Linked DNA regions of Homo sapiens: region 1 is linked to region 2. The links come from fine-mapping of genetic effects on gene expression. Tissue or cell type: whole blood. Region 2 holds a variant in brackets; the other region holds the start of a gene. All regions are shown on one strand. Distances are from middle to middle.

What was found. PIP is the estimated chance that this variant, and not a neighbour inherited with it, causes the effect.
Region 1: it holds the start of COL5A2, and the variant in region 2 is fine-mapped to the expression of COL5A2 in whole blood (TOPMed, PIP above 0.99).

Annotation. Positions count from the first base shown.
Region 1 is chr2:189,177,189-189,182,806 of GRCh38, reverse strand. It overlaps COL5A2 (collagen type V alpha 2 chain), which reads left to right and starts at 3,046. Exons shown (of 54, transcript NM_000393.5): 1 at 3,046-3,299. The coding sequence starts at 3,203.
Region 2 is chr2:189,057,199-189,062,501 of GRCh38, reverse strand. It overlaps COL5A2 (collagen type V alpha 2 chain), which reads left to right. Exons shown (of 54, transcript NM_000393.5): 30 at 887-940; 31 at 1,719-1,772; 32 at 3,609-3,653; 33 at 3,975-4,073; 34 at 5,075-5,182. Among named protein-coding and RNA genes, the nearest start is that of MIR3606, 64 kb to the right of the region's middle. The variant C/T (reference allele first, on the strand shown) is at 2,231.

The sequences.
Region 1 (5,618 bases), 120 kb before region 2:
TAAATATGTGTGTCATGCATCAAGCTCAGCAGAAGTTCGGAGAAAGGGAAGATTATAAAATGAGATTAGGTAAGTAAGGCATTATCACTTTTCTTGGTGGAAGAAATACAAGAACCTTTGATTTTTATTATTTGTTTTTCTGTTATTCTTCCTGAATATTTAGCAAGGTGGTTTACAAGTCCTGATTTTCTCATATATTCCAGAAAGAAGTAGCTGAAGGGTGATTTTTGGTGCTTACTCAGCCCATTCATTAATTGGAAATAGGCTCCTCCTGGGGACAGTGTGGTGGTAATAGAAGTTTGAGTGTCAAGTAGGTCTAAAAAGAGCTAAAAAGGGGTGAGAACATTCACTCTGGAGTCAGACATCACTGAAGTGGAACCCTAGATTTATTGCTTATTAGGTGAGCAAACTTGAGCAAGTAAACATCTTTGAACCGTAATCGCCTATATATGATTTGAGAAAAATAATAAGTACCTTTCAGGGTTGCTGTGAGAATTGGAAAATATTCACCCACTAGCACATATTATTACAAAACATACACTGTTAGGATAGGCTTCACTGGAATTGGGACAGATTTCTGAGTACCCCACTGCAGCAGTGAGGTCTATAATCAGTTCTTTAAGGACTAAGAAATGGCATTGTCCTCTATTCTGAATTCAACCACATATATTAAACAGATATTCCTGGTCAATACCTGTGTATATTTTAGTCTTTTCCAAATTGTAATGTGGGACCCTAAAACCAGACATAGAGAAAAAGCCCAAGTTGCAAAATACTTTGCTATTTATGACTTGATTGCAATAAGATTTCAAGAGTTCACAAGGACAATATGGAATATTTACTTATCTCAGGTCTTCTGACAAATATTTGCTATGCTTCTGTCATACCATGAGCTTTCAGTAGGGTGGGAAGAGGAGATTGAAACTGGTGGCAACCATGAGAGACTGCATGGTGGTTTTAACCTTTCTTATATAAGCCATGTTTATAGTTAAATTTAAAACAACTTTATTAACAAACAGATAACAGATACTAAACTACTGATCTGAGCAGCCACTGAGTGTTCCATACACTGACTCTGCTACAAGTCCTGCAATCTTGCCTAATCATTGTTTTATCTCCAGCATAGGATCTGAGAGTTGTAGATTCTCCATAAATGTCTGCCGTCTTGCACTTCAGTAAAAATGCTGCACAAGGTGCCTGAAAATTGTGCCAGCCCTTCGGTATCAGGGTGGTATTGGTCTAAAATTGCCTCATGGTAGAATAGGACTGGCAAGCTCAGAGAAAGGTTAATTCCTCCCCCCCACATTTACTTATCTTCCTGTTATCTTTGAATATATAGTCAGATGGATTTCAAGTCCTAGCCTCTCTAAGATATTCTAGAAAGAATTAACTGAAAGGTGATTTTTGGTCCTTACTTAGCCCATTCATTAAGTGGAAGGGCACCCCTGAGAACAGTGTGGTGGTGACAGAAGTCATTGAAATGGGACATGTCTAAATGAAAAGATAAACTGAGAGGTACAGGGTTAGAAGCTGGAAACAACCGGGAAAATTGACCTCCACTGGAATATTTATCCAGAGTCTAGTTCCAAAGCTAAAATGCAAAGGTTCTTGGATTTCTTCTATTAAGAACAGTAATAATGTCTTGCTTGCCTAATCTCATTTGATAATTTCTCCTTTCTCCGGGCTTAATGCATCCCTCACATATTTATATGCTCTGGCTTATATATCTTTATTTCTTGTAAATTTAGTTTCTCAACACCTACATATGTTCCTTGAAGGTGATGGGTATGTCTTTTATTTCTTTTATGTCATCCTTTCTGCCCAGTGCTTAGCACAGTGCAAGGCACCTGTTGCCCAATAATTATAAACAATTGACTCACTTGTATTGTATAGAACATCCATCCTGATTCTAGGGAGACTCAAGGTGGCAAATACATTAGATTGTATAGAACTCTCTGAGGTCATTAAGATCTTGGCAAGTGTGAGGGTGGCACAAAAGTTCATCGATAATTTTCCTTAAAATGCATGTTCAACTGGGGCTATCATATTCCCTGCAAAGCTGGCTTAAAGCTAATAATACCACCATCTGCTTTTATGTAGCTCTTTGCAATTTGGAGCTTCATTAATAATACATTACTCATTTTAGTGTCACTAAACCCTGTACACTGGTCAGGGTAAAGCCCTTTTCTCAAATGAGAAAATTGGAGTGCACAGAGATAAAGGACTATATGCACATTTACAAAATTATTGAGTGGCAGAACCACTCACAAAAGGCAGAAGCAAGCCTTTTTTCATCCAAAGGTAGAGTACTTCCCATTCCTCTGCACTGCTTAGTAGACTATTTTTCAACATGGTAAAACTCTCTGGGACAAGAGGAACCTGAAGATGTGGCCCCTTAACAAGAGATGTGGAGAAATTAGGAAAGGACATGCTTTCTTAATTCAAATTACAATGTATCACAAATTCATTTATCCAAAATGGTTTTCTAACCTGGACTTTACCTGGGCAACATTCTAATAATCTCCTTCCAGAGTATGGGAAAAGAAACCGAATCTGAGAAGGGGATAAGAATACTCCCTATTCAGTCAAAAGAAAGGGTTAAAATGTGATTGTTTAAAGATTTAAGGTGGAGAAGAGAGTCTTGAATTATCTAAATGTAAAAAAACTAGGGTAAAAGGCTGGATTTCCTTCGGAATGTCTTTTTCAGCTTATAGGGGAAAAGTTAAAGGGTGTGTGTCTGGGGGGAAGGGTTAGGGAGGGGAAAATAGAACCCTTTTCTTCTAACAGCCTTTCTTAAAAAATAAAAGAAAAGAGAAACAAATGTTTGTTTCTGTTATTAAGCCCCATCTATGCTTAAAAGTTAAATGAAATAGGGAAAGTTCAGGCACAGAGACGCGTGTTCTGATTTGGTTGTTTACCATCAATCAGACCGTTGCTTGGCAGACACTGGATGGTTATGAGCCTGAACAAGCTGAAAAGGGGCAGGAAAAGAAGTGGAGGCAGCATTCTTCCTATTTAAAGCTGCATCGCTTGAAAAAAGTTTTCGCAGACTGTGCTGGAGCTGGTGCTGAAAAAGGGGGTTTGCAGAGGCTGCCCTGGGGCTGGTGCTGAAAGAAGAGCCCACAGCTGACTTCATGGTGCTACAATAACCTCAGAATCTACTTTTCACTCTCAGGAGAACCCACATGTCTAATATTTAGACATGATGGCAAACTGGGCGGAAGCAAGACCTCTCCTCATTCTTATTGTTTTATTAGGGCAATTTGTCTCAATAAAAGCCCAGGAAGAAGACGAGGATGGTGAGTTTGCCATTTGCTTTGCTTGTAGTGTTTATTGCACGGTTTGGGAAATAGGTGGAATGTTAAGCCTCAGGAAGAGCGTGAAGAGGAGGTTCTGGTTTGAAGTTTGAGAAGGGGGCTGACGGATTTGCACCTGGAAAACGACTTGAAAGACAATTGGGATGTTTGTAAATCCGGAGCTTCTAGATCCACCGTTGGAGAGAGTACACTACTAAATTTTTCTGGGAAAGCCTACAATAAGTCCTTTTGGCTGAGTGTGAGAGTGGGACGTTTAAAATAAGAAAAGAGTGAATGCTTAAAACGGAGCACTAAAGGCATTTTAGTTAGAGGAGCTCTGTTCTGTGGGCTGGAGTTTTCAGAGCAAGGAAAAGTCGCGGCAGAAGCTGGGTAGGGTGGAGTCTTTTTGTACTGAACTTCAGCTGCTTCATAAAATTCTTTGTTTAGTAAAACCTCTGCAGCAACTCTGATAGCTTTGATTTTTCTTTGTCTTTGGCTCCTCATTCTTTCCTCTTTAACAATTTAAACTTCTTTTTACCATTTTCATTTGTGAAAATGTGATCACTTTTGCTTACTGGGAGGCAGTCTCGTTTGTTTCTCCATGACAGAGGCTGATAGAAGCCAGATTTCTTAAACAGTGGTATTTTCCCACCCTACTGGCTTGATTAACAGGACAGTGGTGGTTCCCGGTTGGATGGCGGAAGGCAGGAAATCAGCATGTCTTGTATATATCTTATTTGGCATGGAATATTTGCATGGACATTACCCCTTAGACCCAAGCTTTTTTTTTTTTTTTTTTTTAAAGATAAATCTTGCCTGGTGACCACATTTTTTTCCTATGCAATTTTCATATGTTACAGTTGGGTTATATGGTATGGTTAAGCAAAAATGCATAGCTGTTGTAGTATATAAGAAAATATTTAAATTGATTCCTCTATTAAATCTTTAATCTTGAGGGTTGCAATTTCAAATACAGACATGTACTCCTTTAAAATAAGCCACTGTAGATTTTCATCAACTCAACCATGTAACATCAAACTCAAGCTTTTAAAACTTTGGACATTCATTAACCTTTTCTATTACTTTCATATATAGACACATACATACAGGTATATATGTATATATACTATGTATATATCTATATTTTTAGAACAAATATCTGCTTCTGTGTGTTTTTGGTTTCAAAAAGTTTATAAAATTAATCTAGAGATCAGAAGTTCTAAAAAGCTTAAAAAGTGAAAATACGAATTTGTAAATGAATATCCAACAATCTGTCAGGAGTCCCATAGAGGGGGCACTTTCTAAGACTTGGAGCTTTTTATGTTACGTTTTATGTTTTTAAAATATGAGGTAATTTATAAAAGGTGAAAACTTTTGAGTTTCTTTGTAATGGCATGAAAAGCATGTGTTGTTTGGAAGGGTGGCAAAAATAATTGAATAGAAAGTAGAAGAAAACAGGAGGAGAAAAACACAGAAAAATTACAATAGAAATTGAAAATTTGACTCTAGAAAGAACAGTTTACTCCCCTCCCCCACCAAAACAACCAACTTTAATTTAAAACCTTTAATACCACTTTCTTTGTTAATTTATGTTAAAATGAATAAAGTACTTTAATAAAGTATGGAAATAATTGAATATGTGAATAAATGAAAGGACTGTTTCACAAGGTACATGAAATAAGCCATATTTTAAAAGACATTCCCAAATAGTTATAATTACTCTGTAGGTGTTTTTGAAAAATGAGCAGATAATTTTTCTTAATAGTAATTGACATAAATGTAAGGAATGTGATGCTTGATGCAAAAAAGTCCCCAACTCCAATCCAACCCCAGTACCCCCCGCGAACAGTATAACCAAATAGCACAGAAAATGGAATTCCAAACATCAAATTTTACAGAATGTGTAATTGCTTGCATATGTGTTGTAAAAAATTCCAGTATTTTATTTCTCAACTTAAGAGAATATAAGTGATAAAAATTCAACAGCAAAAGAAAGTCGTCATTGCCCTAATCAAACATAATAGAGAAAATAATTCCAGAGTATAGTATATTCAGAGCTGCTTAACTTATATTGTACTTACTTACTATGCATATTTTGGTTTAAGTTGATATTGTATGGATACTTGGCAATACTTTCTTTTTCCTGTTCAGGCCTATCACAAGCTTAATAAAGGTGTCATAATTTAGAAACTCCATTTGATTTTGAGTTTGGGGAAGAGTAAGCTTAGATCGATGCTTTAAATTAAAGAAATATCTGAGGCACACATGAAAAGCAAGTACATTTTTCAAATTTTATCTATAACAGTCACATAATGTGATATT
Region 2 (5,303 bases):
TTATAAAAATTTATGTAAGGCCGGGCATGGTGGCTCACGCCTGTAATCCCAGCACTTAGGGAGGCCAGGGTAGGTGGATTACCTGAGGTCAGGAGTTCAAGACCAGCCTGGCCAACATGGTGAAACCCTGTCTCTATTAAAAATACAAAAATTAGCCTGGCATGGTGGCATGTGCCTGTAATCCTAGCTATTCAGGAGGCTGAGGTAGGAGAATCACTTGAACCCGGGAGGCGGAGGTTGTAGTGAACCAAAATTACACCGTTGCACTCCAGCCTGGGTGGCAGAGCAAGACTCCATCTCCAAAAAAAAAAAAAAAATTATTTAAGGTATTTTTTAGGACATAAAAGGAATAATACTTATTCTTTGAGGTCTATTTTCATTTTAGGACTTTCAAATGAAGTGTTTATCCGAAATATTTTGGCATATTTTTTTGGGGGGGTGGGGCAGTTTAAATCTTTCTAAAATGTTAGCTTTGCTTTCTTTAGTCATTCTGTTTTTGAAGTCTTGATAAATAATTCTTAAGACATTCAGAAATAAACTATAATAAAAATATTATGTTTTTAGATTACATATACAAAAGTAATGGGTTTTCCTATATTCAATCCAATTTCCCCATAAGTTTACAATTGGCTCCAGACATTTAAGTTTGGATCAAAAAATAAATACATGTTATCAGTTACTGGCTTTAGAAGATATTTTCTCACCTCCAGAGACTTCAAACAATACCATTTGGTTACTATTAATACTAGTTTATTACCTGGCTAAAGAGAAAAACATGTGATTGGAAGAAATACAAATAAATATCAGTACTTCTAGTGGTTCACGTAGAGAGGAAGCAGACAAAGATCTGGTTATATTCACAATTATTTTCTCCTTCACAACTTAGGGTCTAGCTGGTGAAAGAGGAGAACAAGGACCTCCAGGCCCCACAGGTTTTCAGGTATGCACTAATTCGGTTTTCCATTTCATCTTCCATTAACTAAAATGCTTTTTTTTTTTAAAAAAAAAGATATGGTCAGAAGATTTGAAATTCTACAATTTTCAAAAAGTCATCCCTCTTTTAGTAGATAGTATAGACATTTGGATAAAATCGAACATTTTTGTTCAAAGTAAAGGAATGGGCTTCTAAAAAAACTGATCAAACCTGCAAATTATGAACAAAACAAATAAAAAATAACAAAAAAGTAATAAAAAGATATCAGGAATAAAATGTTTCTGATAGCTCAACAAAGTTTATGAAACCATTTTAAGGCTGATTTTGTTTTATCGGCACAGTGACTAGAATTTTTTATTGAACAAAGTTTCATAATTTATCTACATATATCAGTATGTACATTATTTAATAGGAGGAAGATCATAATTTGTAAAAAAAACTTTCTGGACTGACTTTAAATAATATTCTAGCAGTCTAAAATATTGTTCACAGAGCCATAAAAACTCTATAAATATGAAGAAGCTCCTGTTACATTATCTCTTTTTTTGCTAAGTGGTGTGCAGATGAAAATACAATCCTATAAATTGACTAGCTGTTGTGTTTTATTGGTAGTCTTTTTTTAATGCTTCTGAACAATATTTTTTACTTAAAATGTCTGAACAATATATTTTCATTGAAAATATAGTCTTGGAGACCCCATGAATTGTAAAAGGTAAACTGTTAACACTGGTAGCCTGTTAAACTTACACAGATTCACAATTTTATTTTCTTACTTTTGTTTTAGGGGCTTCCTGGTCCTCCAGGGCCTCCTGGAGAAGGTGGAAAACCAGGTGATCAAGTAAGTGTTTAAATAATAATAATGGCAACACTATACATTGCTGGCTCAATTATCACTTTTTATGTGTGAGGCTCTGTTGTGCTTTCCTTTACATACATTATCTCTTTGAGTTCTCAAAGCAGCCCTATGTACTAGGTACTATCATTATCTCCATTTTGTAGATGAGGAAAATGGGGCATACAGATGTTAGATAACTTTCCCAAAGTCACACAGTTAATAGATTTGAACCCAGGTCATCTGCTTCCCAAGATGTGTTCTTAACCACTTTATATAAACAGTTATGGACAAATACTAACAATTTTATTCTGTCGTTTTCCTGGCTCATAGATTTATTTATTTTTCTTTGAATGATTCATTTGTTCATTTAATCATTTAATAAATATTTGCTGAACACTCTGTGTGCTTGCCTCTACAAAGCACTGGCCTGAACCAGCTGAACAAAATGGATTTGGACCTTG[C/T]TGTCCTTACAGTATAGTAGGATTCAGAGAGTATAGGACAATTACAATAATAGCATGCTCTAAATGCTATAATAAGGGAGGTACTATGTTTATGGAAACAAAAAAGATGCACCTAAATAAGACTTGGGGGTTTTAGGAAAGGTTTTCCAGACAAAGTAATATCTTTTATGAGATCTGAGAGATGAATGATGATAATGATGAAGGAGGGAAGATAGGAAAAACCTCCAGGAAATGAGACAAGCTTACAAATCAGAGTGGGTAATGTAATTTGGGGAAAATAGAAAGGGGGCTGCAGGGTGACTCAGGGGCCTGATTATGGAGGGCTTTAATTTGATTCTAATTTGTTCTTCATCATTAGAGTAATGGGAAGCTAAGGAAGAGTTTTTAGGCTGGGCACAGTGGCTCACACCTGTAATCCCAGCACTTTGGGAGACTGAGGCAGGTGAATCACTTGGCATCAGGAGTTCGAGACCAGCCTGGCCAACCGTCTGTACTAAAAATACAAAAATTACCTGGGCATGGTGGCACATGCCTGTATTCCCAGCTACTTGGGAGGCTGAGGCAGGAGAATCACTTTAATCCAGGAGGTGGAGGTTGCAGTGAGCCAAGATCATGCCACCATTGTACTCCAGCCTGGGTGATAGAGCGAGACAACGTCTCAAAAAAAAAAAAAAAAAAAAAAAAAACCAGAAAAGAAAAAAGAAGGGTTTTTAAGGAAGGAGTAATATGATAAGATTAGGGAGATCAGGCCACAGTGAGGACAGTCCATTTCGGAGAATAAGATTGGAGGCCTATTTGATAAAGTTATCTTTATCAAAGAAAGAAATTTCAAATTGACAAACTTTCTTTTATGTAAGAACAAACAAACTTTTAATTTAGACATGACTGCACTGGTTTGAATGCACAATACCTAGTAGAGTGCTTTGTCCATATTATAGGCTCAAGAAAGATTTACTTAATTGAGTAGAATTGGATTGGTTCTATTTAAAAGACCAACTCTTTAGCCCTTTTTATATAACTTTTCTTTATTTAAACTTTTTCATCTTCCATTAGTTTAAAAAAAGACATTTAGCATGTATTTTGTTGCCTCTAAAAAACTAATGCTCTATCTTTGTGAAATAGTACTTTGCATGTTCTCATTGCCAAAAATCAAACATTCAGGTATAATACAAAGTTTTTTGGAAAAATGTTTTCATCTAAAACATGTAATATTCCCTCATTTATAAAAATATACGTACTTTTCTTTCTTTAAATTGTTGGCTTATGCAGCCTTCTAATGGCACATTAATAGAAACTAGGTGTATGAACTGGAAAGTTTTCTGATAAATGCCTAAACTCAAAGCTCTTGTTCCATTAAAAAAAAAAAATGTGTTTATAGGGTGTTCCTGGAGATCCCGGAGCAGTTGGCCCGTTAGGACCTAGAGTAAGTATTTTAATCTTCATGATTAATGTTGTTTCCCACTGGCTTCAGTTTTAAAAGGTGTCTTTTAAAATCTTAAACTGGGATTTATTTTAACCTATAAATTCTTTGACTGGATAAAAATTAATTTTATGAGAAATATTTTGTGCTATGAAACTAGCATATCCTTACTTCAAATTTATTTCTTATCACTAAATTAGAAAATTGAGATTTAGTAATGTCTCATTTCTGAATTTTTCCGCAGTAGAAGCCATTTCTCAGAAACATTTTGACCTATTTTTAGATCAAGTATTGAGATTATTTGACATCCCAATTTTGTGCTAGGGAGAACGAGGAAATCCTGGGGAAAGAGGAGAACCTGGGATAACTGGACTCCCTGGTGAGAAGGGAATGGCTGGAGGACATGGTCCTGATGGCCCAAAAGTAAGTGTCATAGTGATCTCAGTGTTTTAAAATGCTTTAAAATTACTGCTTAATAAACGCATGATGGTGTGAGAATGCATTTGTCTTGTTTTTGAAAGATAATTTGATTATATCATTTTCTTCTTCCACAAATATTTAATGAGCGCTTACTAGGCTTTTTCCTTGCAACTAAAGTGTCAGCTAAAAAGAAGACTCTCTTCTTTGATGGGGATTGTAGTTTAGTGCACATGGTGATAGACTTCCATATACAAACACATTTCTAATGTTTATGTACATTTTATTAGTGGCTTCTATGAATAAACAGAGGAAAGAAATAGAAAATTACATAATTTATTAGGAGGCTTTTCTAATAATATGCTCCATTTTCCTTGTCTCAGGTTTCACAATTCTGCTTACTACATATGTGAAAATATGGAACTTTTAAAATCTGAAAATATAATGCATCATAAGGCAGAAATGTGTGCCATTTAGTGATTGGTAGAAAATAATGTGGCCAACTTCAGTATAAACAATTGAAGTAGAATTTTTCATGGTCATGTGACATGAGACCCCTTATTATTTTCAGGGTTTAGAGTGATTGATGCAGTCTACTACAATTTAGACACTATATTAGCCTGAAAACCAGGTTAATATCAAATATCAGTTTCATTAAAGAGAGAATGAAATATTTCTCTAAATGTAATGTCTTTCTTTCTTAATATATTCCATTATGTTGCCAACAGAGGGAAAAAAAGGCAACTCTATCCTTTTTATTTGAAATAGCGTTCAATTGCCTCTTAAGAGAAAAGTTAAAAATATAAAGCAGCAATCAAAAACAAAATCTGGTTTTTTTAATTTCAAAATATCAACTCACTCAGAGACAACTTTCTCAGATGAAAAATATAAGCACTAAGTTGAACTACATGAAATTGCTGACAACTACTTTTGACCCACTAAAAAGCAATTTCATTAGTTTAATCTTAATATTATTGGTATGGTCACTTAATGTTGGTTCATTTTAGGGCAGTCCAGGTCCATCTGGGACCCCTGGAGATACAGGCCCACCAGGTCTTCAAGGTATGCCGGGAGAAAGAGGAATTGCAGGAACTCCTGGCCCCAAGGGTGACAGAGTAAGTCCTTTTTTTTTTTTTTTTTTTTTCAGTTCATTTATTCAGACTTTCTGCTGAAAATGAAATGATTTCTTGAGCAGGCTTTTATTTCTACCATCCTGAGTCACTAGTCATTCATTTT